Regions from separate parts of the Homo sapiens genome. Here regions 1 and 3 are each linked to region 2. Evidence: fine-mapped expression QTL. A gene starts in region 2. Each other region holds a variant in brackets. All regions are shown on one strand. Distances are from middle to middle. Region 1 overlaps HACE1 (HECT domain and ankyrin repeat containing E3 ubiquitin protein ligase 1). Region 2 holds the start of HACE1 (HECT domain and ankyrin repeat containing E3 ubiquitin protein ligase 1). Region 3 overlaps HACE1 (HECT domain and ankyrin repeat containing E3 ubiquitin protein ligase 1).

Region 1 (8,285 bases), 21 kb after region 2:
AAGGTGTAGAATGATTTGAGATAAAGTTTTAAGCTATATTAAGATAAGTTATGGCTTACCATATTTCTCTCTTCTCCTTTTTAAGTTTATGACTTTTGTTTATTTTGAAGCTTATTCCCCTAGCCTTTGTCACTGACTTTTAAGGGACTTCCTAGGAGCATCTCTGCTGAGGTGTGTTATGTGTTCATTCTTGGAGAGCTGTTTTTCGTTATGTTCTTTTAAATACTTTTAATATGTTCATTGTAGAATTAGATAGCTAGTCAGAAAGGAATAAAAAAGGTAACAGAGGGAATGAGCACTCCCTGTATTCCTTGCACTCTGAGATAATCACGGTTAAAAAAAAAAAAAACTTTTGTATTTTCAGTAGAGACGGGGTTTCACCACGTTGGCCAGGCTGGTCTTGAACTCCTGACCTCAGGTGATCCACCCGCCGGCCTCCCAAAGTGCTAGGATTACAGGTGTGAGCTGCTGTGCCCGGCCAATAAAACCTTTTTTTAGAGACAGGGTCTCACTGTCACCCAGGCTGCAGTGTAGTGGCATGATCATAGCTCACTGCAACCTCAAACTCTTGGGCTCAAGAAATCATCCAGCATCATCCTTCCAAGTAGCTGGGACTATAGGTGTGTCTCACTACCCTTGGCTAGTATATTTTATATTTTTTTGTAGAGGTGGGGTCCTGCTTTGATGCCCAGGCTAGTCTTGAACTCTTGGCCTCAAGCAATCCTTTCACTTCTGCATCCCAAAGATAAAATTACTGTTAACATTTTGTCCTGTTATTAGACTTATATTTTATATAAAGTAGTATTGGCCATTTTGCCATACCACTTTCTTTGCAAAAATAAGTTTATGTATTTTTGAATCACATGGAGGTGGTATGGGATATTGCTGAAGAGATTGTTGAAATCCCAAAGTTTTAACCAAATTGTCATTATTTAATGGAGCATTATTAATTTTAGAAGTAGAGATAACATAGAATTATGTTACTGTTGAGTAGTTGTTTTGAAATCATGGCAGAAAATGTTAAGTTTTATTTATTAAATTATACATTCCTTTGATAGTATTTATATTTTGAATCTTTTAATTTTTGAATAAAGAATAATATTGAATATTTACTTACCATGCTGGTTTTCAAGGCCTTTATGATTAAAAATTGGGGAATGAGGTATAGAAAAACAACTTTCCTAAAATTTTGAATGGCTTATTATAGAATAAACTCAATCATGATTATTATATGGAATCTACAATTCCTGTAAAAATTCAGATTTTGTTATGTATTAATAATATAATACCACCTATTCTGTAAGGAAAGACTGTATTCTGAATATCCGTAGGATGCTTAGTGACACGGTACGTGCAACAGAGGGTTATGAAACCCTAGAAATGACATAGATCTTTCCTTAGGACACTAACCAGTTTAGGCATGATGGTTGAATGTTAATATAATCTGTTTTAATTGCATAAGATGTTTTCTGTTAATTTCTTCCCTTCCTTCCTGTACTTTAAGGGAGGTGGAATAGAAAATTTGTAAAAATAAAATTTTTATTTAACAAAATTATTCATGTATGTATTTAAAGAATCAAATATTCTACCTGGCTTGTAGAAAACAGTCTCTTGGCCTTCCTCCCCAACCTCCAAACTTCCCACTCCCTAAACAACTTCTCTCAGCTATTTTTTTTTTTTTTTTTGAGACAGAGTCTCACTGTTGCCCAGGCTGGAGTGCAATGGCGCAATCCCAGCTCACTGCAACTTCCACCTCCCGGGTTCAAGTGATTCTCCTGCCTCAGCCTCCCGAGTAGCTGGGAATATAGGCGCCTGCTACCATGCCCAGCTAATATTTTTTGAGACAGAGTTTCACTCTTGTTGCCCAGGCTGGAGTGCAATGGTGCTGTCTTGGCTCACTGCACCCTCCACTTACCGGGTTCAAGCAATTCTCCTGCTTCAGCCTCCTGAGTAGCTGGGATTTCAGGCATGTGCCACCACGCCCAGCTAATTTTGTATTTTTAGTAGAGACGGGGTTTCTCCATGTTGGTCAGGCTGGTCTTGAACTCCTGACCTCAGGTGATCTGCCCGCCTTGGCCTCCCAAAGTGCTGGGATTACAGGTGTGAGCCACCGCGCCCAGCCTTTTTTTGTATTTTTAATAGAGACGGGGTTTTACCAGGTTAGCTAGGCTGATCTCGAACTCCTGACCTCAGGTGATCCACCCGCCTTGGCTACCCAAAGTGCTCGGATTACAGGTGTGAGCCACCGCGACGGGCCTCTCTCAGCTATTTTAATGGATTTTAAAATGTTGTCTCTATATCTAAATAGCATGCTAAATGCTACTTCCTGGTTTTTTGGTTTTAGGTATCACCTGTTGACTTTCTGGAAGATGAGGCTATTGTTCTCTTTTTCAGCCCCTCCTCCCGCCCTGTGGTGTATAAGCACATTAGCCTTGTATCCCTCCAATACAATTATTGTAATTTTAGTTAGATCATTTTTGTGTGTTATTATTTTTTTGAGTACACGAAAACTATTCATAGTTAAGCCAAATAGTTGGTTATAGTTGCTTTCCTTTCTTGCATAACATTTTATTTTCCCTGTAGTTAATGATTGTCTTTTTTTAGAAATTAAGATAATTGTAGATTCACATGCAGTGCTAAGAAATAATAGAGAGAGAGAGTTGCCCTGCACTTTTTGCCGAGTTTCCTCCAGTGGTAACATTTTGCAAAACTATACTATAATATTACAGTAAGGACATGGACATTGATACAATCTGTCTTACTGAGATTTCCTCAGTTTTATTTTATTTTATTTTTTTGAGACAGAGTCTCGCTCTGTTGCCCAGGCTAGAGTGCAGTAGTGCAATCTCAGCTCACTGCAACCTCCGCCTCCTGGGTTCAAGCAATTCTCCTGCCTCAGTCTCCCGAGTAGCTGGGACCACAGGTGTGCGTCACCATGCCCAGCTAATTTTTGCATTTTTAGTAGAGATGGGGTTTCACGATGTTGGCCAGGCTGGTCTTGAGCTCCTGACCTCAGGTGATCTACCCGCCTTGGCCTTCCAAAATGCTGGGATTACAGGTGTGAGCCACCATGCCTGGCCTTCCTCAGTTTTAATTGTATGTGTGTGTGTATGTTTATGTATTTTAAGTTCTATTCATTTTTATTACTTGTGTAGGTTACCTGTGTAGTTTTATTACCTGTGTACATGGTAGGTTTTCACCACCATAGTCAATATTCTGAACATTTCTAACACCACAGAGATATGTCATGTTGCCCTTTTATAACCATACCTTTCCCTTTGTCCTTCACATCCCATGGCTAACCTATAGCAACCATTAATTTGTTCTCCATTAGTCATTTCAAGAATGTTACAGAGATAGAACTATATTGTATGGAACCTTTGGGGATTGGCTTTTTTTGTTTGTCACATTCCTTGGAGACTTATCTAGGTTATACTTATCAATAGTTTGTTCCTTTATAATGCTGAATAGTATTCCATCCAGTAGTGGATATACCACCATTTGTTGGACTGTTCACCTGTTAAAAGACATTTGGTTCACTTCTGGTTTGAGGCTATTATGAGTAAAGCTGTTAAAAACAGCAGGGTACACATTGGGATAAATGTCCAGGAATGCAGTTGTTTTCCGTAGTGGCTATACTAATTCACATTCCCACCAACAACATATGATAGTTCCTGTTTCTTGACATCCTTGCCAGCATTTCTTATTGCTTGTCTTTTGGATATAAGCCATTTTAATAGGGGTGAGATGATACCTCATTGTAGTTTTGGTTTGCATTTCTTTGATGATCAGTGATGTTGAGCACCTTTTTATATACCTGTTTTCCAGTTGTATGTCTACTTTTGAGAAGTGTCTACTCAGATCTTTCATTCTTTTTTTAATCAAAATTTTTTTTTTTTTTTTTTTTTTTTTTACTATGGAGTTGTTTGAGTTCCTTATATATTCTGGTTATTAATCCCTTGTCAGATGGATAGTTTGCAGTTATTTTCTCCCATTCTATGGGTTGTTTCTTTACTTTGTTGATTTTTTCCTTTCCTGTGCAAAAGTGTTTTAACTTGAAGTGATCCTATTTGTCCGTTTTTGCTTTGGTTACTTTTGCTTTTACTTAAAAGCAAATTTACTCAAGAAATTTGCTCAAGGGGTATTACTCAAGAAAGCTTTGCCCAAACCAATGTCCTGGAGAGTTTCCCCAGTGTTTTATTTTAGTAGTTTCATGTCTTAGATTTAAGTTTTTAATTAATTTTTGTTTGATTTTTGTATATGGCAAGAGATATAGGAGCCTAGTTTCATTTTTTGTGTATGGATATCCAGTTTTCCCGCACCATTTATTGAAGAGATGGTCCCTACCTCCAATGTGTGTTCTTGGCACCTTTGTAGAAAATGAGTTCACTGTAGATGTGTGGATTTATTTCTGGGTTCTCTGTTCTGTCCCATTGGTCTGTGTGTCTGTTTTTATACCAGTAACATGCTGTTTTGGTTACTATAGCTCTGTAGTATGATTTGAAGTCAGGTAATGATATTCCTCCAGTTTTGATCTTTTTACTCAGGATGGCTTTTGCTATTCTAGATCTTTTGTGATTCCATATAAATTTTAGAATTATCTTTTCTGTTTCTGTGAAGAATGTCATTGGTATTTTGATAGAGATTACATTGAATCTATAGATTGCTTTGAGTAGTATGGACATTTTGACAGTATTGATTCTTCCAACCCTTAGGAATATTTTTCCATTTTGTGTGTGTGTCTTCTTCAGTTTCTTGCATCTTTTTCTATAGTTTTCTTTTAGACATCTTTCACTTCTTTGGTTAAGTTGATTCCTAGGTATTTTATTTTATTTGTAGCTGTCATAAATGGGATTACTTTCTTTACTTCTTTTTCAGGTTGTTTGCTGCTGACATCAGAATGCTACTGATTTTTGCATGTTGATTTC[A/G]TATTTTGCAACGTACTTATTTACCAGTTCTAACAGTTTTTTGGTGGAGTCTAAGTTTTTCCAAATACAAGATCATATCATCTGCAGACAAGAATAATTTGACATCTTTCTTTCTAATATGAATGTCCGTTATTTCTTTCTTTTGCCTGATTGCTCTAGCTAGGTCTTCCAGTACTGTTTCTAATAGTGGTGTTAAGAGGGTCTTTTGAAGAGCAAAAGTTTTTTAACTTTGAAGTCAAATTGATCAGTTTTTTGCATTATGGATCATGCTTTTGGTATCAAGAACTCTTTGCCTAGCACTCACTCCTGAAGATTGTCTCATATATTTTTTTCTACAAGTTTTATGTTTCTGTGTTTTACATTTAAGTCTATGATCTCTTTTGAGTTACTGTTTGCATAAGTTATGAGGCTTAGGTCAAGGTTTACTCTTTTTTTTCTGCCTATGAATGTCCAGTACTAGCACTGTTTGTTGAAAAGGCTGTCCTTCCTACATGAATTTGCTTTTGCATCTGTTTCAAAAATCAGTTGGGCATATTTGTGTGGACCCACTTGTGGACTTTATATTCATTCCACTGATCTGTGTGTCTCTGCTAATCTCTCTGCTAATACCACACTGTCTCGATTACTGTAGCTGTAAGTCTTAATACCAGGTAGAATAATTCCTCTCACTTTGTCAAGATTGTGTTAGCCATTCTGATTCCTTTGCCTTTCCATATAAATTTTAGAATAAACTTGTCTGTGTCTACAAAAAAACCTTGCTGGGATTTTGATTGGAGTTGCTTTAAACTGATAGGTCAATTTGGGGAGAATTGTTATCTTTACTGTGTTGATTGAGTCTTTTAATCCATAAACACAGTATATCTCCACACTTACTTAGGTCTTTGATTTTATTCATTAGAATTTTGTACAGCACAGTGGGGATTTTGTGCATGTTTTGGTAAGCATATAACTGTTTCATTTTCTTTGGCATAATTATAAATGGCCTTGTGTTTTTAATTTGAGTTTATGCATGTTCAGATGGAAATGCAATTGGTTTTTGGTTTTGCAATCTTGCTGAACTCACTTATTAGTTCTGGGGGACTTTGGGCAAATTGCTTGAGATTTTCTACATAGACAGTCATGTTGTCTGCACGTAGAGACAGTAATTTGTTTATTTATTTATTTAGACAGAGTCTCACTCTGTCACCCAGGCTACAGTGCAGTGGCGCAATCTCAGCTCACTGCAACCTCTGCCTCCTGGATTCAAGCAATTCTCCTGCCTTAGCCACCCTAGTAGCTGGGATTACAGGTGTGTGCCACCATGCCCAGCTGATTTTTGTATTTTTAATAGAGACGGGGTTACACCTTGTTGGCCAGGCTGGTCTTGAACTCCTGACCTCCGGTGATTCACCCGCCTCGGCCTCCCAAAATGCTGGGATTACAGGTGTGAGCCACCGCGCCAGGCCTTTATTTCTTTCTTCGCAGTTTGTATGTCTTTTGTATTTGTTTCTTGCCCTACTGCAACTTTATTACTTTAAAGTTTTCTTATAACTTTTTACTAATTCAATTCCAAGGTCTCTCTCAGCTTTGTAAATATCCTCTTAATATGTATTCAGTACCTTTCATGTGCTTGATTATGTCTTGAAGGAGTCTCTTACGGAGACTTCTGTGCTCTCTTGGCTGGATTGGTTGATACCTAGGTCTGCTGCACAGTTGTTTGGAATGTCTCATCATCTGGGGATTCCTTTTGCTTTTTTCTTGCTTTGGGTTCTCTTGTTATATGGGTCTCATATCCATCTTTTCTGATAACTATTCTGTCACTCTGATGGAGCACAACCCTGAGAGTTTCCTGAGAGTGTGCATGGGAGATGTGTTGCCACCTTGCATGTTTGATATGACTTGAGTCTTTGAGTCTGATTATGTAATTGACAGTTTAGCTGACAATCTAGACAAGACATCATTTTTCCTTAGAATTTTGAAAGCATTGCTTTGTTGTGTTCTAGCTTTGTTTTGAAGTTTAGTGCTATTTGGATTCTTGATTCTTTATATGAAACCTGTTTTGATTTTTCTCTCTAGAAACTTATAGAATCTACTTTGTCCTTAGTGTTCTAAAATCCTGTGATTATTATGTCTTGCTTTGGATTTATTTTATCCATTTCGATGGATAATATTGAGACCCTATCAACCTGGAAACTCATGTAATAGGAACTTATGAGAAATATTCATAAATTATTACTTTCATGATTTCTTTTTCTGTCTTTTCTCTGTTTTATTTTTTCCCCAACTCCTATTATTTAAATGTTAGACCTATTCACACTAGCCCTTTAATTTTCCTACTTTTTCTCATTTCTTTTCTTTGTACTTTTAGGGAGACTTCCTCAATATTATCTCCTAATTCTTGTTTTGAGTTTGCACGTCTCTATCATAGTATTAATTTCCAAGAGTTTTTTTTCCTTGTCTCTTTCAAAAAATAGTATCCTTTTCTCATTTCAGGGATGCAATCAGTATGTTCTCCCTCTGACAGTATTAAATATAGTTTTTTCTTGAATATTCATGGTTCCTTTTTCCCCCTACTTTTTGCTTTAAAAAAATTTGTAGTTTGTCTTTCAAATTAGATGCGTTTATCAGATGTTTGGTGGAAATGGAAAAAGCTATTTGAAGGCTGTCAGCATGAGTGAGGCTTTGTTCACTAGAGGCTTCAGTGTAGGATGATCTCCTTGGACATTTGCCTCTTAGACCTTTCCAGTGTCGATTTCTTTAGGCATTTACTCTTGAACTGGTCATATTCCTCAGAGAAGACTCTTCCAACTGCCCGGAAGATGTTAACAGTCTGCGTGCTGGATAGAGAAGAATGCTTTGTAAAATCAATATTCAATATTTAAACTTGCACTTAATCTCCCCTTTTTAGTGTGGTATTCTTTGTTCAATGTGCCTGTTGTCTCTTATCTAGAGACTGTTTTCAAGCCTCTTGCATTCTATCTGGTTGAGTGGGGGCCATTACTGGCCTTGCACAGTTGGGGAGGGGTAGAGATATGAGGCTCTAAATCTTATTAAATAAACTTTCAACCTCTTTTCAAGAGGTGCATGGTACTTACTATTGATTCTTGAGCCTTTTGGGAGTCCTGTGATCTGAATCACATTTTTTGGGGGGTTTCTCTAATACTGGTGTAGCATTCTGACAAGTCAACAAGTATAATCTGACAAGATAAAAAGCATCATCTACTTTCTTTGCTTCCAAAACTTGCTGTTCTCTCCTCTGTATCTTTATGGATCTAGTCTTTTAAGGAAATACTCTTTACTCTCATTTCCGTGGGGTTTAGGGAAGAAGTAGAGACTGATGCATGGATTAAACCTGCCATTTTAAAACAGGGATTTCAT
Region 2 (8,285 bases):
GGAGGGTGTTTTTGGAAGAGATGAACATTTAAATTGGTTAAAGCAGATTGCTCTCCATAATATGGGTGGGCTTCATCCAATCAGCTGAAGGCCTGAATAGAAGAAACAGCAAGAGGGAATTTTTCAGCAGACTGCCTCCAGACTTCATCTGTCTTACTAGCTGCCCTGGCCTTTGACTGGAATGGCATCATCAGGTCTCTTGGGTATTGAGACCGCTGGTCCAAACTGTAGATTTTGGATTTGCTAGCTTCCATAATCACGTGAGTCAATTTCTGATAATAAATCTCTTTCTCTCTCCATATATATACACACATTCTACTGGTTCTGTTTCTCTAGAGAACCCTGATATATTTTTATATCACATTTATTTGGCTAATATTTTCTATGGTATCCCTTTTTTCCATTTCCTTTTGGAAATGGTGGTCCCTTAGAAACAGCAAATAGCTGTTTTATTTGATCTTTTCAGATGTAAGAAATAAATCAGATCAAGTACAAATTGCGATCCAGGATATTTTGAGTCAGTGTTGAGAAGCTTGCCTTACTGCATTTCCCGTACAGTTTATAAAGCGTAAAGATGAAGTACTTTGGCCTTTTTTCATGATTGTCTGTTATACATTAATTTTTTTAGGGAAACTATTTAAGCTGATTTGTCTATAGCTGATTGGCTTAGTTTCACTGAATCATGCTGACAAGGATATAAACCTTGCGTTTTGTGTTTATTATTACAGATGGTGTTTTGGGGAAATGAGGATGATGAGTTTTGGTTTGTGGTTATACACAGTTGGACTTGGGTATATCTAAACTGTGGCCTCCATTTTTATTTTTCTTTAACACACTATCTAAGACCTCTATGTTTTAGAGTAAACATTGAGTTTACTCTGTTTATATTTTCTGTGACCATGGATATATTTAGATTTATTTCTACTGCTACTTTATGTTTTGTTTTTATGACCATTTTTCTTTGCTTCCCACCCATTTCCTGCCTTTTGTTGAACAGATTGTTTTTCTCTTCTCTTTCCCTTAATGCTTGGGAATCTTCAATAAAACCAATTTCCAGGAAGAAAAAAATACCAGATATACAAAAAAGAAAGTTGAAACTGTCTGGGCCACAGAAGAACCTGGGTTATCATTAGTGAAAAACTCTACGCTTTTGTTAATGGAACTTATGATACAAAGTGCCCTTTTGAAACTTCCACTTGATGTTTTTGGTGTTGGTGACAGGTGAGAAAATCTACTCTTTAGCTAATAATAATCTATAAGAAGCTGTTTAGCTGTTTTGGTGTTCTCCTGGGCAGCTTTCTTCTTGGTGTGATAAGTTGCCCTGTCTAATACGGTAACCACAAGGCACATACAGCTATTTAACTTAATTAGTTTCATTACTTATACTTTAATACAAATTTAAAATTCAGTTGCACCAGCCACATTTCAAGCACCCAGTAACCCCATTTGGTTAGTGGATGCTATTTTGGACATTGCAGATTATAGAATATTTCTATCATTGCAGAAAGTTCTGTTGGACAGGAGGTGATAAGCTGATAGTAGTACTGCAGCTTTATACATTTTGAAGCAGAGCTATTGGGAGACGGCATCATATTGCAGAATTTGGAACTGACAATTCACATCAGCATTACCTGTTCCATTATCTTCTGCTCCTGTGGTGAACAGTGACCAGCATGAGATGCAATGCCCACCATGGAGGCTGCTGGGGGCTCCTACCCCTGCCCACAAACTCCAGGCTTGGTCCTCACAGGACGTTGGAGGTAATTTATATGGAGCAACAGCCTAGAGAGCAATGGTGATAACAGCAGCTGAGAGAAGCTGAGGGGCCAACTTCTGTACAGCAGTGGGAATCCTGACTTTTTGAATAGCATAAGAGGCCAAGCAAGACTGGAACATTTTTAGTTGAAGCCAGGTTGCAAATGGTTGAGCCTGGGCTAGACTGGTCCATAACGTCTGGTATTTCTTTCTTCCTTTCCTTTTTTTTTGAGACAGGGTCTCGCTCTGTCACCCAGGCTGGAGTGCAATGGCAGGATCTCAGCTCACTGCAGCCTCTGTCTCTCGGGTTCAAGCGATTCTCCTGCCTAAGCCTCCCGAGTAGCTGGGATTTCAGAGGCACACCACCACGCCCGGCTAATTTTTGTATATACATATTTTTAGTAGAGACAGGGTTTTACCATGTTGGCCAGGCTGGTCTCAAACTCCTGACCTCAAGTGATCCGCCTGCCTTGGCCTCACAAAGTGCTGGGATTACAGGCATGAGCCACTGCGCCCAGCCTCTGGTATTCTTTTGAAACTTTGACCTCTACCACCTTGTTGCCAGACTGGTTTAGGTATCATCTGATTAGGTGAAGATTACAGAGGTCTTCCCCGTGCCTGTGGCACCACTGGCACAAATGGTCACTAGCTGGAACTGATTTAGGACGGCACTGGCAGGGAAAACACATGCCAACCACCATCTGCCCCTTCATATCCTGAATGGGCAGGTGAGACTCTCTTTCACTTGGCCAGCCAACATACATCATCAACGTACATGTGCCCATTCATTTCAGGAACAGCTTTGTCTCTTTGAGGAAGAGAAGCTGAAAAAGACAAGCCTTTTGTTTCTCCCTCACTCCAGCATCATCTTGGCACTGGTAATATATCCAAGATATATTGGTGTTAGCCAGGCTCACATTTACCCCTTTGATTGGGTTAATTTTTTGAAGTTCCAACTTCTGTTGTTTCAAGTGTTCAACTTCTGTGCAGAGCTTATGAATATGATTTTTCGCCACTGAGTTCATTTCTTCCACAATGTAGGTATCCAAATTTTTTGTAACTTACAAAGTCAAATCCTTTGGATTTCCCACTAGGCTGTGTCATCACATAGACACTTTAGCATTGTACCAAATAAATGAAAAAATTTTTTCAGGTTGTCATCATTCATATCTTCCCCAGAGCTTTAACTTTGTGCTAGGTGCCTTGTTAAGTACAGGGATACAACACAGTTCAAGATTAAATGTCCCTGCCCTCATAAAGCCGCCCGGCAGGAAAAACAACTAATTAAGCTATTGTCAAGTTATTTACAATGAAGACAAAAGCACAATATGCTTTTGGATTTGTTTGATTTTATTACTCTTTAAGTTTGACATATGAAAATACCATACTTAAAACAGTTCATGTAGGGTACCTGAAACAAAGGCACTAATACAGTACTAGAAAGGTGGTGACGGATTTAAGAACAATTGTGCCAATTTCTAATCTGTTTTATAGTAAAGTTATAGAATTGGAGGAAACTGCTCCTGTACAACTTTGGAGGAGGGTAGGAGGAGCAGGGCGTGAGAATGCCTTTCCAGAAGCTTAGGAGTACGCCCAGTCGCTGCGTGGCTTCCCGCATACTCAGCCCTGCGCCCGCGTTGGCGTGGCCTGGGCGCCCCCAACGTGACTCCGCCCAGGGCGCTCCGTTCTGCCAGCTGGAAACTACAGTTCCCAGAAGGCCACGCGAGCCCGGGAGGGACGCGGCGGCGGGGGCTGCAGGAAAGGCGCGAGCAGAGGCGGCGGCGGGTGTACTGTAGGTGGTCGGTCCGGCAGCAGCCCGGCCCCCGGACGCAGGACGTGGCCCCAGGCAGCCCTCGCAGCTCAGTGCTCTAGCCGGGGCAAGCCCGCGTCTCCGCCTGCTGGACGGGCCCAGGCGAGATGTAGGGCTCTGGGCGCGGAGGCCGCCGGTGGGGCGGCTGATCGCGGAGGATCGCGGAGGGCGCGCCGAGGATGGAGAGAGCGATGGAGCAACTCAACCGCCTGACGCGCTCGCTGCGCCGCGCGCGCACCGTGGAGTTGCCCGAGGGTGAGCCGGGTCGCGGGGCCAGGCTGGCCGCGGGGCTGGGGGCGGCCAGTGGGGCAGGAGCTCCGGCCGCGTCAAGGTCGGGTGGAAAAACTAACTGAAAGCTGAGAAAACGCCCACTTTTACTTTCCAGAGCTGAGAGGCGGCCCCGGGCCCCGAACTCCCCTGGCCCGACGCTCCCACCCCGGCAGGTGGGAGTTTTCGGGAGGAAACTGGGTTGGTGGGGGTTCCGCTGCTGGGAGGAGCGAGACAAAGGTCTCGCAACGTCTGTCGATTAGGGGTCTTGGCAAAGGGGCAGGAATACCAGCCGGAGGCCCGAGACCCGGAGTCAGAAAACATCATAATTGCGGGTCATTTAACAGTAGCTGGGGATAGAGATGATCCAAAGATACTGTTTACTTTAAGCTGCATCGGGGGGCCAGGCGGGCTTTTATTTTTGTTATTTTTTAAAATGTGGGGCACTGCCTTGTTTTGATAACAGGCAAACAAAGGGTTGTCAAACATCAAACAGGTACTCTTAAAGTACTGTATGGGTAAACACAATATATTTTTCTTTAATATGCATGCCTGCCTTCATTCTTCATTTATTCATCAGACTAGTATTGAGTGGGCTAGCTGGTAACTAGGACGCATCTGCAAAGAGGAATAAGGCATGGTCCCTGAGGATCAGGACTTTTAGTTCAGCGTGCCAGGGTTCCCTCAGGACAGGTAAAACTCTGCTAATAACAAGGAGAGAAAATAAGCAGTTTTGTTTGCAGCGTCAGGAATTCAGACATTTTAGTGGTGATGGGAGACAGCAGTGCTGCTTCTAAGAAGCTTTTGGCTCTTTATGCCCAAGTGAGAGAAGGGTTGGGAGGAGGTTGTAGCTGGTGAATAGCTTTTTTCTTAATTGTAGTAGTTTATCTTACTTTTTCAAAACTCTCTTTGAATTGCTGCTGGGTGGTTTGTAGGATAGGGAAGGAGACCTTGGCAGACGGTCATGAAAGAAATGTGGGATTGGGTACTTTGGCGATAATTTTCTTTCCTTTCTTTTATAGAGATGAGGTCTCACTATGTTCCCCAGGCTGGTCTTGAACTCCTGGGCTCAAGTGATCCGCACCCTGCTCCCCCCAAAGTGTTGGGATTACAGATGTGAGCCACCGCGCCTGGCCTGGGGATAATCTTCTTGAAAAAATGGTCTCTAGTCTCTATTTAGAATTCAGATTTTGGTAACTAGATTCTAGCTTCAACTTTTTCTATATTTTCTTTCCAACTTCCACCTTTGAATCCATTTCTTAAGTGCTACTCTTACTTATTTTTCGTAGTCGAATTATTGGTATAGCTTTATGAAGACTACATGTATAATTTATATTGTCTAGTTTGAATCCCGATATTTTTTACATAAATGTGATTTAGAAGACTTTGATAATGTTACTTGGTTTTAAAAGTAATATAGTTTCATTGTAGAAAATTTGGAAAATAAAGAAAAATAGAAAAAAATATGTCATTTCACCATCCAGTTATAAACAGTGTTACCATTGTTATTTCTTTTTCCCTCCCTAACAAGTTAAAATCATGTTGCATATAGTCTTTTATTTTGTGTTTAGAAAACATCCTTTTTTTTTTTTTTTTTTGAGACGGAGTCTCACTCTGTCGCCCAGGCTGGAGTGCAGTGGCGCCATCTCGACTCACTGCAAGCTCTGCCTCCGGGGTTCACGCTATTCTCCTGCCTCAGCCTTCCCAGTAGTTGGGACTACAGGCCCCTGCCACCAGGCCCGGCTAATTTTTTGTATTTTTAGTAGAGACGGGGTTTCACCGTGTTAGCTAGGATGGTCTCGATCGCCTGACCTCGTGATCTGCCCGCCTCGGCCTCCCAAAGTGCTGGGGGATTACAGGCGTGAGCCACCGTGCCCCGCCCCAAATGTTTTTTTTTTTTTGTATTCTTCAATAGGCTTAATGACTTCAGAATTTCATAGGATGCATGTAACAAATGTTGAATCTAAATACTGTTTTTAAACTGATTTTATGAGAAACAGCTTTGTATTTAAGACATAGTCTGCCTCTAAATACTTCCTTAGGGTTAATTCTTACAAGAAGAATATCTACAATACATTTCTAAGGCTCAACATATCAGTTTCTCAACTTACTCCTTGGAAAGTTCCACCAGCAGTCCGAGAGTGCCCAGAAACTAGAGTATTATTAGTAAAAGTAAAACTTTTCCACATAGGCAAAAATGGCATCGTTTGCATTTGCTTTTCTTTGATTATAATGTTCATTTTGTTCCTTGAATTTAATTTATCTTTGTCTCTAAGCTCTGATGAGTCTTTGAATTCTCTGAGCTTGGCTCTTTAAAGTATATCATACATATAGGAATATATATATATATATGTAAATATATATGTAAATATATATGTAAATAAATATATATATGTAAATATATATATAACATTCCTACTGATACAAATCCACATTTGTGCTTACATTTTAAGAGCTGAATGGAAACTCTGAGATCTCTCTAAATTTAGAAAATAATCAGATTTTTTTTGCTTTGTTAGAATTCAGTAATCAATAAGCATCTAATTACAACAAACTATTAAACTTGTAAACTTTTTAGTCAGCTTGTACTCTAAAATTAATTTTGTTGCAAAGGTTGAAACTATAGATGTTTGATAAACTGAGTTGGATGCTATGTTTCCTTGAGATGATGAAAACCTGAGTATTACCCTAAGTAATGGAGTGCAGGTAGTTGAGTCCTCCTAGGCAGGCCTAACACAGGAATATTCTTGAGAGAAAAAGAGGTGAAGAGTAAGAAATTACTTTAGGGATATGGATTCTTAGTAGTGTTTAAAAGTTGGAGGCCGGGCGCAGTGGCTCACACCTGTAATCCCAGCACTTTGGGAGGCCGACGTGGGTGGATCACCTGAGGTCAGGAGTGTGAGACCAGCTGGCTAACATGGTGAACCCCCGGCTCTACTAAAAATACAAAAAATTAGCTGGATGTGGTGGCGGGTGCCTGTAATCCCAGCTACTTGGGAGGCTGAGGCAGGAGAATTGCTTGAACCTGGGAGGCGGAGGTTGCAGTGAGCCAAGATCGCGCCACTGCATTCCAGCCTGGACATCAAGAGCGAAACTCAGTCTCAAAAAAAAAACACATAAATAAAAGGAAGGTGTATGTTGTTAGTGTATGTAAAGTTTGAACTACTATATAGTGAATGCAGTTTGTTTAATAAAATAATAAAATTTGAGCCCATTTTAGCATATGTGATTGGGATAATTGTGTTTAAAAAAATTACTCCATGTGATGGTTTGAAGAGAAATTGTATATAATTAATTACTCTGAGCACCTTTTTTTTGTTAACAGTTGGGTTTTGAAACTGTAGTGATAAAAATGGCAAACATGTCTAATAAAGTGATAGATTAAACTTTTCTTGTCACCCTGGAGACTTTAATTATATACCTAATCCTGAAGGTGTCTTCAAGAGTAGACAAGGAAGTATCTGGCAACAAATTGTATTCTGTCCTTTCTTAGTATAGTATTTCTTGGATAGTCTTCTTCTAGCACCACAGTTGTGGTTAGATTTATTTCTTCATACTTACCTGTTAATGTATGTGACCTACTTTTTTCTTTAGGTTAGATGTGACTTAAGATGTAAATCTAATTTTTATCTAAAAAATAAAAACCTTACAAGTACAACCATTGTGAACCTTATTATGCTCACTAACGCTCACTTAAAATTATGCACTATCTTGATTTAAAGTTTATCTTGATTTAAGTTTAAACCCACAAATAACAGTGTTTTTTATGACTTTATTATGGGGTGACTTAATGGAAATTCTCATGGTTTAGAAGTTCAGATTTTTATTGGGACATGTATTATTATATGAACGATAAAGAATGTTGTCATGCCAAGGGAGGCTTAGTGTAGTATTTTCAACTCCTGGTGGTGACTCATTGGTAGTTTCTGAGAGCAATTAGTGGGTTGCAGTCAGCATTTAAAAAAAGAAATATAAGAGGATAAAACAGAGTCTATTTTACATATTAAGAATAGTATTCTATTGTAGACCTTCTGGTTATGTGGTATATACTGGGTGCATTGTAGGATATATTATCTTTTTATTTTTTATCTTTATTTTTTATTTTTTTTTCCGAGATGGAGTCTCGCTCTGTTGCCCAGGCTAGAGTGCAGTGGCATGATCTCGGCTCATTGCAAGCTCTGCCTCCTGGGTTCACGCCATTCTCCTACCTCGACCTCCCGAGTAGCTGGAACTACAGGTGCCTGCCACCATACCCGGCTAATTTTTGTATTTTTAGTAGAGATGGGGTTTCACCTTGTTAGCCAGGATGGTCTTGATCTCCTGACCTTGTGATCTGCCTGACTTGGCCTCCCAAAGTGCTGGGATTACAGGCGTGAGCCACTGCACCCAGCCAGGATATATTATTTGTAGAGGCTCTGGAATCAGCCACATAATGCCACTGTTACACAGCTTG
Region 3 (8,285 bases), 48 kb after region 2:
AGCAAGAGTGATCTTTACTCCAGTTGCCAATAAGTTCCTCATCTCCATCTGAGATCACCTCAGCCTGGACGTCATTGTCCATATCACTATCAGCAGTTTGATCAAAACCATTCAACAAGTCTCTGGGAAGTTCCAAACTTTCCCACATCTTACTGTCTTCTTCAGAGCCCTCCAAACTGTTCCAACCTCTGCCCCTTACCCAGTTCCAAAGTCGCTTCCACATTTTCAAGTGTCTTTATAGGAGTGTCCCACTCCTGGTACTGATTTTCTATATTAGTCAATTTTTCACACTGATATAAAGAACTACTTGAGACTGAGTAATTTGTGAAGAAAAGATGTTTAATTGACTCAGAGTTCTGCTGGCTTAACAGGAAGCATGACTGTGAGGCCTCAGGAAACTTACAATCATGGTGGAAGGCAAAGGGGGAAGCAAGCATCTTCTTCAGATGGTGGCAGGAGAGAGGGAGAAAGAGCGTGAGGGGGGATGTGCCACACACTTTTAAACCATGAGCTCTCATGAGAGCAGCAAGGGGGAAATCTGCTCCCATGCTCTGGTCACCTCTCACCAGGTCCCTCCTCCAATTCAACAGGAGATTTTGGCAGGGACACAAATCCAACCCATATCACCCTCTAAACCTAGAAATAATCTTAGTGTCTCTCCCATGTTTGATCTCCATATTCTAGATTCCATATCTTCTATTATGGTTTATTCTCTTTCTTTGGAGGAGGATATGCTTCAGTAGCTTCTTGAGAAAAGGTGCATTGAAGATAATTTAAAAAATCTTATAAAATAGTTAAACATGTTTTTTATTTATAACCATCTATTTGAATAATAGTGTAGTTGGCTATAGAATTCTGCATATAATTTATCTTACAATTTTGAAGGCTTTTTACCTTTTAGATTTCTGTGTTGCTGTTGAGAAGTTTTAATGCCCACATGATTTCTGTTTATCTCTGGAATCTCTTATCCCTGATGTTATCATGAAATTTCACTTTGACATGCCTCGTTGAAGGTCTTTTGATTTAATAGACTAGACACGTGTTGAGCCTTTTAAACCTGGCACCTGATGTCTTTCAGTTCTGGGAACTTTTTTGGTATTATTTCTTGGTTATTCCCCTTTGGTCCCTCACCCCCTTTCTTTTCTTTATTCTTATTTTCTGCAGTATGTCTCCCTTGATTGATTCACAAATTTTCTCATCTTTCCTATTTTCTACTTTGTCTTTTTATTCTACTTTGTAGAATTCCTGAACATTTTCTTTTTAAACTTCTGTTGAATTTTTATTTATTGCATTGTATTTTTGATTTCTCATTTCCTAAATATTTTCTACCCAACATCCTTTTATCATTCCATGGTATAATTTCTTTTCTGTTCGAGGTTATCAGTTACTTTTCTAATTTTTGTTGTTTTCTTTGGTTCCCTTTACTGTCTTTGTTATTCTGAGTTTCATTTTTCAGTTGTAATTTTTGTTTTTCAGGTTAGAGGCCTGCTTCAGTTGTATTTTTAATATTGTCTGTTCATTCATGTGTAATGGTGAGGCACTCAAATGTTGGCTGGAAGCGTTGTGTACATGAGTTGAGTTTGTTGACTACTTGGTTTGACTGTACACCAATGTTTCTTGGTCTCAACACTGTTGATATTTTGGATCTGATAATTCTTTGTTGTGGGGGCTGTCATCTGAATTTTAGGATATTTAGCTGCATCCCTGACCTCTACCCACTAGCTGCCAATAGCATTTTCCCTTCCCTGGTCATGAAAATAAAAAAGTTGCCTCATGTTCCCAGGGGAAAATTTAACCTTGGTTGGGGATGACTGCTATAGACCCATTGTCCCGAATTGGGCTGTTTCTTTATTTTTAATTTTTGTTTCTTTTTAGAGATAGGGTCTTGCTTTACAGATAGCGTCTTGCATGCAGCACCATGCATGGCTAATTTTAAAATTTTGTTGTGGAAATGGGATCTCTCTAAATTGCCTAGGCTGGTCTTGAACTCCTGGCCTTAAATGATCTTTCCACCTTGGTTTTCCAAAGTCTTAGAATTACAGGCATGAGCCACCATGTCTGGATGAACTGAGCTGTTTCACTGGGGACTTTCTAATGCCAATATCTGTAAGATTCTTTTCTGATGCAAGTCTTGAGAGGAAGCTTTTAATTCCTTCTACTTGAGATTTTTAAGCCTGCCTGCTGGATTTCTGGGAGCCTAGTTGGAACATGGAGGCTGGAGGTTTTCACTTAATTTGTTGTTTTCACGATGGCTCCTCATCTTTGCTCTACCTGTGTGTCTTGTCTCCCAGTCCAGAGCCTCCCTGTTCACTTTGTGCAGAGAATAAACTTCCCATCTTCTGAGACAGTGTAAAGAGGGATAGTAACTAACTGGATAGGATGGGAAGAAAGGTCCTAGGGGGAGAGTCTGTTTCTTCTATTGACTTTCAACTATTCCTCCTATTTTTAGCTCTACATAACCATTCCTATATTCCAAGGTACCTGGTACTTCCAATTCCTCTATTCCTTTTTTGTTTTCTTAATGTGTGTGTTCTGTAGTAAGAATTGAGTTGCTTATTGTTGGAATCCCCATTTGTGGGCAGTTAGACTTCAGCTTTCTTTGATCTGCTAAGTCAGTTACTATTTCTCCATTTGCTTGCTATCTTTCCAAAACTTACTGACTTATCCAGTATGCTGTTGTTTTCTTTCTTGTTCTTCCTTTGGGTGTTTAGTTTTATTATTTTACTGACATTGTACTTTGTTTAAAAGCGGCAAAAAAGATGAACAGATGTGTTCAATCCAGAAGTAATAAGCGTCTAATTTCAAACTATTTTGTTTTTTTTTAAGGCATGGGGTCTTTCTCTGTTGCCCAAGCTGGAGTGCAGTGGTGTAATATAATTCATAGTAGCCTTGAACTCCTGGGCTCAAATGATCCTCCCACCTCAGCCTCCTGAGTAGCTAGGCCTACTACTATGATGTGCTGCCATGACTAGCTCATTTTTTAATGTTTTTGTAAAAATGGGGTCTCACTATGTAGACTAAACTGGTCTCAAACTACTGGCCTCAAGCCACCTATTGCCTCATGTTTTATGTTTTTACATTTTCTTCCTTTTTGCAGGAAAAACTCAAATGAGGATTTTAGGAATAAAACCATGAAAGTTTTTTTTTT[TA/A]AAGGTTTTCAACTGGGCCCTGTCCTGTCCTTAATCAACAGATATGTATTTTTAAGATTTTATAGTAGCGTACTCTCTCTTAGTATGAGTCAAATGATTAGAGGAGTAGAGCTTAGGGGGCTAAGTATATATTAATGGCAATCAGTGAAATTGAGCCTGTATATGCTACTGTTAATAGCAAAAGGGCTTCTTAGCTTTTTAAAATTTTATATTTTAATAATTATGCTCTTGACTTTGGGAAAGTTATTATTCTGGTGCTTAGTTTTTTAGAGGTGAAAAATTCTGGTATTTAAAGCAATTTAAATTCAAGTATCTAAAGCAATAGGGTCCAATTCACTAGCCACATGTGGCTATTTAGATTCAAATGAGCTATAATTAAATACAATTAAAATTTTAGTTCCTTAGCTGTACTAGCCACATTTCAAGTACTTGGTAGCCAATATGTAACTACTGACTACTTTTGATACAGTGCTGCTCTAAAGACTCCCAGATTAACACAGTTTCTATTACACTGATAATTCCACATATATGTGTGTTGTGCCTGAGACACTTAGAGCTTACAAAAAGTTGAATTTGCTCAGCCATAGTAATTGTCACGTGCCCACTCAGTTCCTATGTAAAGCTTCAAGTTGTGGGAAGAACTTCCCTTATATGGATTAAAATTGTGGTAATTGTATCTTTTGTTTGATTCCTCTGGCTTTACTTTTAATTATTTTTTCCCCCTCAGACAGTGCAGTGCTTGCTAGACAGTGGTGCTGATATTAACAGGCCAAATGTATCAGGAGCAACTCCATTGTACTTTGCTTGCAGGTATGATATTTTATATTTCCAGATGCTATATATGCTCATATATATATATATATATATATATATGTATAAATAAAGAAATATATATATTTCCAGATGTATATAATACTCTATTTCTAGACACACACGTTTCTGTGTATTTTCTAAAGCTCTCTTGTTTTCCCACAAATATGCTGTCTTTTAAGAGGAAGTACAATCTCTTTTTTAAGATGAAGTGTTATGGTTCTATTACTTAACTGTATGAGGAAAAGTATTTTCTGTTATATTTAATTGCCATTGCTTTTATGTTACATGTGGAGCTTTTGATTTGCTTGATTACTTCAATTTTAGACTAAGTACTTATTAACAAAAGATAAATCAGTAATCTGGTAATTCCCATCGTTTACTGTGTTATGTAACCAGGTCATTTCCAGTGGGATAAGCTGTTGGAATATATCTTGATCCAGAGCCATGTCTTTTCTTTCTCTGTATCTATAACCAAAAAAAAATCTTGAGTCAGTCTTGTTAGATATTGTTATACATTAAGTTATTTTTGTATTTCTTTATTGGTTCATTTTCTTGACGTGTACATTTTGTTCACTTATTCATGTATTCGGCAAATGTTTAGTTAACGCTCACTGTGTCATGCATTGTTGTAGGTGTGTAATACAGTAATAAATAAACTCTATTCCCTAAGGAGCTATCAGTATAATTATACACATGCCGTCACACCCACACCCACACACATATGTAAAAATATATACACACCTACATATTATGTATTATGTAAATGTAGTTATAGAATACTATAGTAATTCTTCTTTTTGATTTAAATTATATGAATTGTAATATTTATTTAGGCCTTCATATTCCGATATAGAGCTCTCCAGAAAGCTCCTCTCTTCTTCTTTTTTTCTGTTTTATATCATTTTATTGGAAGTTGGTTTTAGGTTGAAAGACCTGCTTTTTTTCTTGTTTAGCTTCTTGTTGGGGTCTCTGATGTGCCTTTGATGAGACCAATTCAGATCATCTATTTAACAACCCTGTATTAGAATTCAGGGGCTTCTGGGTTTCTAGACTTCCAGATCTTTCTGATTCCAGCCATTTTCTTGCATTATATTTATGATTTGGTTGCTTGGCTAGAAAACCAGTTCTTTCCATAGTGTCCTGAATTTATGAATAATATCATCATTTGATTCCCTGTAATCATGTTGTATCTTGAAGGGTTATCTTTAGATCAGACCTTTTTTGAACCTCCAGATTTGAATGTCCATCTGCCTGTTTAACATCATCACTTAGAAGTACCACAGAATCTCACATATTAACATGTCAAAATACAGCTTCAGATTTTCTTCCTCAAACCTTTCCCCCAGTTTTTCCTCATCTTAATCAATAGAAACCTTATTGTCTCAGTTGTTTAAATTAGAAATAATTAGGTTATTTTTTATTTCTCTCTCTCTCTCTTTGTGAACTTGGAATTTATTAGTAAGTTCTGTAAATTCTACCTTCAGAATATGTTCGGAATCTGAACTTCTAACTCAACCAAAACCACCTTAATGTTGTTACCTTTTGCCTAGAGTACTGCAGTAATCTCTTCACTGGTCTCCCTGATTCCTATGTTGTTTCCCTCCAATCTCTTCTTTCCTCAGCAAAGTGATCTTAAAAAAAAAAAAAAAAAAGAATCTGCTCTTGTTACTTTGTGTTTAAGCCTTGTATATAAAACTTTTCAGTGCCTCGTTGTTACATTTTAAATATAATTCAAGTTCTACCTTGGCCTGTGAGACCTCCATGATTTCACTCCTGTTTAGCTCACTGTACTTGAACCACAGTGATTCTCTTTGCGTTCCTTAAATGCAACCAACTCTTTCAGCAGGCTTTTCTACATGGTATTTGTTTTGCCTGAAATGTTCTTCCTTAGGCTTTTTACAGGGCTATTTCTTATTCATGTTACTGCTTAATTAAGTAACTTTTTAGGAAGGCAGTTCCTGACCAATCTAAGCAGGTCGTTCCCCAGATTTTTGATCGCAGTATCACAGTCATTTCCTTCATAGCACTTCCTATTCTGTAGTTGTTTATTTACTTTCTTATAGTCTGTCTCCCCTACATGCCTAAAAATTCAGTGAAAGCAAGAATAGTGTTTATTTTACCACTTTATGTCCAAAGTGTAGTACAGTGTTTTGCACTTAGATGCATAGTAGATGTTTTTGAATGAATGCATCACTATGAAAAATATCTTATAAAAAACAATGCCATTTATAATAGTTAAAATAGAGACATGTTAGTGTTGTGCAGAACTGGGATATCCCTATGGTTAGTCTGAGCTTAGGGATATGGCAGAAGGATTTTTAAGAAATACTTTCTCCTAGTACTGTATTCCCATCATTTAGTTTTAATCTAGCAAATATTAGATCTTTTTGAACAAAGATGGTTAAGCAAGTCTGTGATGAAATGTGAAACCAAAAAATCATTGTTGTAGAAGAATAATAGATATGGAACATGGTTCTTCTGCAGGCACACTTTTAATTTTACTTGTGATATCTTGATACAGGTATAAATTAAAAATATAAGTTATTCCCAATGTGTTATTTCTGATAAATGAAAGGGAAAGGAATATAGGAAATAGAACAAGTTAACCCCAGGACAAATTATAGGGCTCTAAGATAAAGGTTAAATGGAATGTATAGTTTTTATTGGTTGATAAGTATTACTAGATATAATATATTATATCATATTCAAGGGTCAACTACTGAAACTGTTTTCTTTGTATTTGAATTTTGCAATTAAATTTAGAATGGTATTAAGATACAGGGGAAAGAACCTAGTTTGTGTAGGCAGGTTCAAATCCCAGCACCAGAGCTATACAACATTAGTCAAAATTCTTGATCCCTGAAGCTTTGTTTGTTTGTGAAATGGAAGTGCTGATATCTGCCTGGTGAGATTATTGTGAAGATTAAATGTGATGGCTTCTATAAAGCATGCTGCAGAGTATTCAACACTTAGTAGTTGATAGGTGCTCACTAAGTTCTGACATACTTCTTTCACTCTTCAGTGAGCATAAAGTCGTGTTGTCCTCATTTAATTTAATTGCTCTACAGGGTTTTCTTTTGTTTCTTGTCTAATTCTAAGCACTTTTTTTTTTTTTAATTTTTGAGACAGAGCCTCAATCTGTTGCCCAGGGTGGAGTGCAGTGGCGTGATCTTGGCTCACTGCAATCTCTGCCTCCTGGCTTCAAGCGATTCTCCTGCCTCTGCCTCCCGAGTAGCTGGCATTACAGGCATGCGCCACCACACCCAGCTAATTTTTATATTTTAGTAGAGATGGCGTTTTGCCATGTTGCCTGGGCTGGTCTCGAACTCCCGACCTCAGGTGATCTGGCTGTCTCATCCTCCCAAAGTGCTGGGATTACAGACGTGAGCCACCGTGCCTGGCCCTGGGCACTGTTTTATAATGTAGTGTTTCTGTGAGTCTTTTTCAGATGGATTTTGACCTAAAATTATGATAGAAAGGGTTTTCCAGCCAGTTTTCTTCTCTGGATACTCTGGACAGGACATTATAACTCATGTAAACTATATAACTAATTAACTCATTCCTTCTGTCATGTAAAATATAGGCACACATTGATTTTTTTTTCCCCCTGCCATCTTTACACACCTTTAAGTCTTTTATATGACTTCTACCAATATTTCAAATCCTGAAATTATTAGATTGGTTTTATATTCAATCCTTATGTTCTCAGTTCCTTCAACTGAGTTCTTCAAATAAAGGTTGGGATGTATAATGGTTTTCAGGTATTTTCTGTTTGTAGATAACTTTTATTCTATTAGGAAAAGCAAGGTTTAGTTAGAGTTGTATAGATACAGTAAATTAGTAAGATGTTAATGGAGTTTTAGAGGTCTCTACTAGAGACAGAAAGGGCTAAGATTTAGAACATGGATTTGTAGCTACTGCGAAGCAACTCGTTTCAGTTAGAGTATTCAAAATCAAAGTAGCCATATAAAAGAGTTCTTAGACTTGGCCAGGCACAGTGGCTCACACCTGTAATCCCAGCACTTTGGGAGGCTGAGGCGGGTGGATCACGAGGTCAAGAGATTGAGACCATCCTGGCCAACATGGTGAAACCCCGTCTCTACTAAAAATACAAAAATTAGCTGGGCATTGTGGCGCACGCCTGTAGTCTCAGCTACTCCAGAGGCTGAGGCAGGAGAATCACTTGAATCTGAAAGGCGGAGGTTGCAGTGAGCCGAGATTGCACCACTGCACTCCAGCCTGGGCAACAGAGTGAGACTCCATCTCAAGAAAAAAAAAAAAAAAAAAAGAATTCTTACACTTAAAATTGTAAACTTTCAGCAT

Evidence for each region.
Region 1: its variant is fine-mapped to the expression of HACE1 in thyroid (GTEx, PIP 0.97).
Region 3: its variant is fine-mapped to the expression of HACE1 in whole blood (TOPMed, PIP 0.96). The same link has a PIP of 0.9 or more in blood mononuclear cells.

The regions. Positions count from the first base shown.
Region 1 is chr6:104,834,519-104,842,803 of GRCh38, reverse strand. All of the region lies in intron 5 of HACE1 (HECT domain and ankyrin repeat containing E3 ubiquitin protein ligase 1), which reads left to right. Among named protein-coding and RNA genes, the nearest start is that of HACE1, 21 kb to the left of the region's middle. The variant A/G (reference allele first, on the strand shown) is at 4,929.
Region 2 is chr6:104,855,102-104,863,386 of GRCh38, reverse strand. HACE1 (HECT domain and ankyrin repeat containing E3 ubiquitin protein ligase 1) reads left to right here and starts at 3,468. Exons shown (of 24, transcript NM_020771.4): 1 at 3,468-3,820. The coding sequence starts at 3,745. It also overlaps the pseudogene LOC100422315. RefSeq lists enhancers at 3,379-3,673, 3,288-3,787 and a silencer at 3,410-4,039.
Region 3 is chr6:104,806,985-104,815,269 of GRCh38, reverse strand. It overlaps HACE1 (HECT domain and ankyrin repeat containing E3 ubiquitin protein ligase 1), which reads left to right. Exons shown (of 24, transcript NM_020771.4): 7 at 3,877-3,959. Among named protein-coding and RNA genes, the nearest start is that of HACE1, 49 kb to the left of the region's middle. The variant TA/A (reference allele first, on the strand shown) is at 3,149.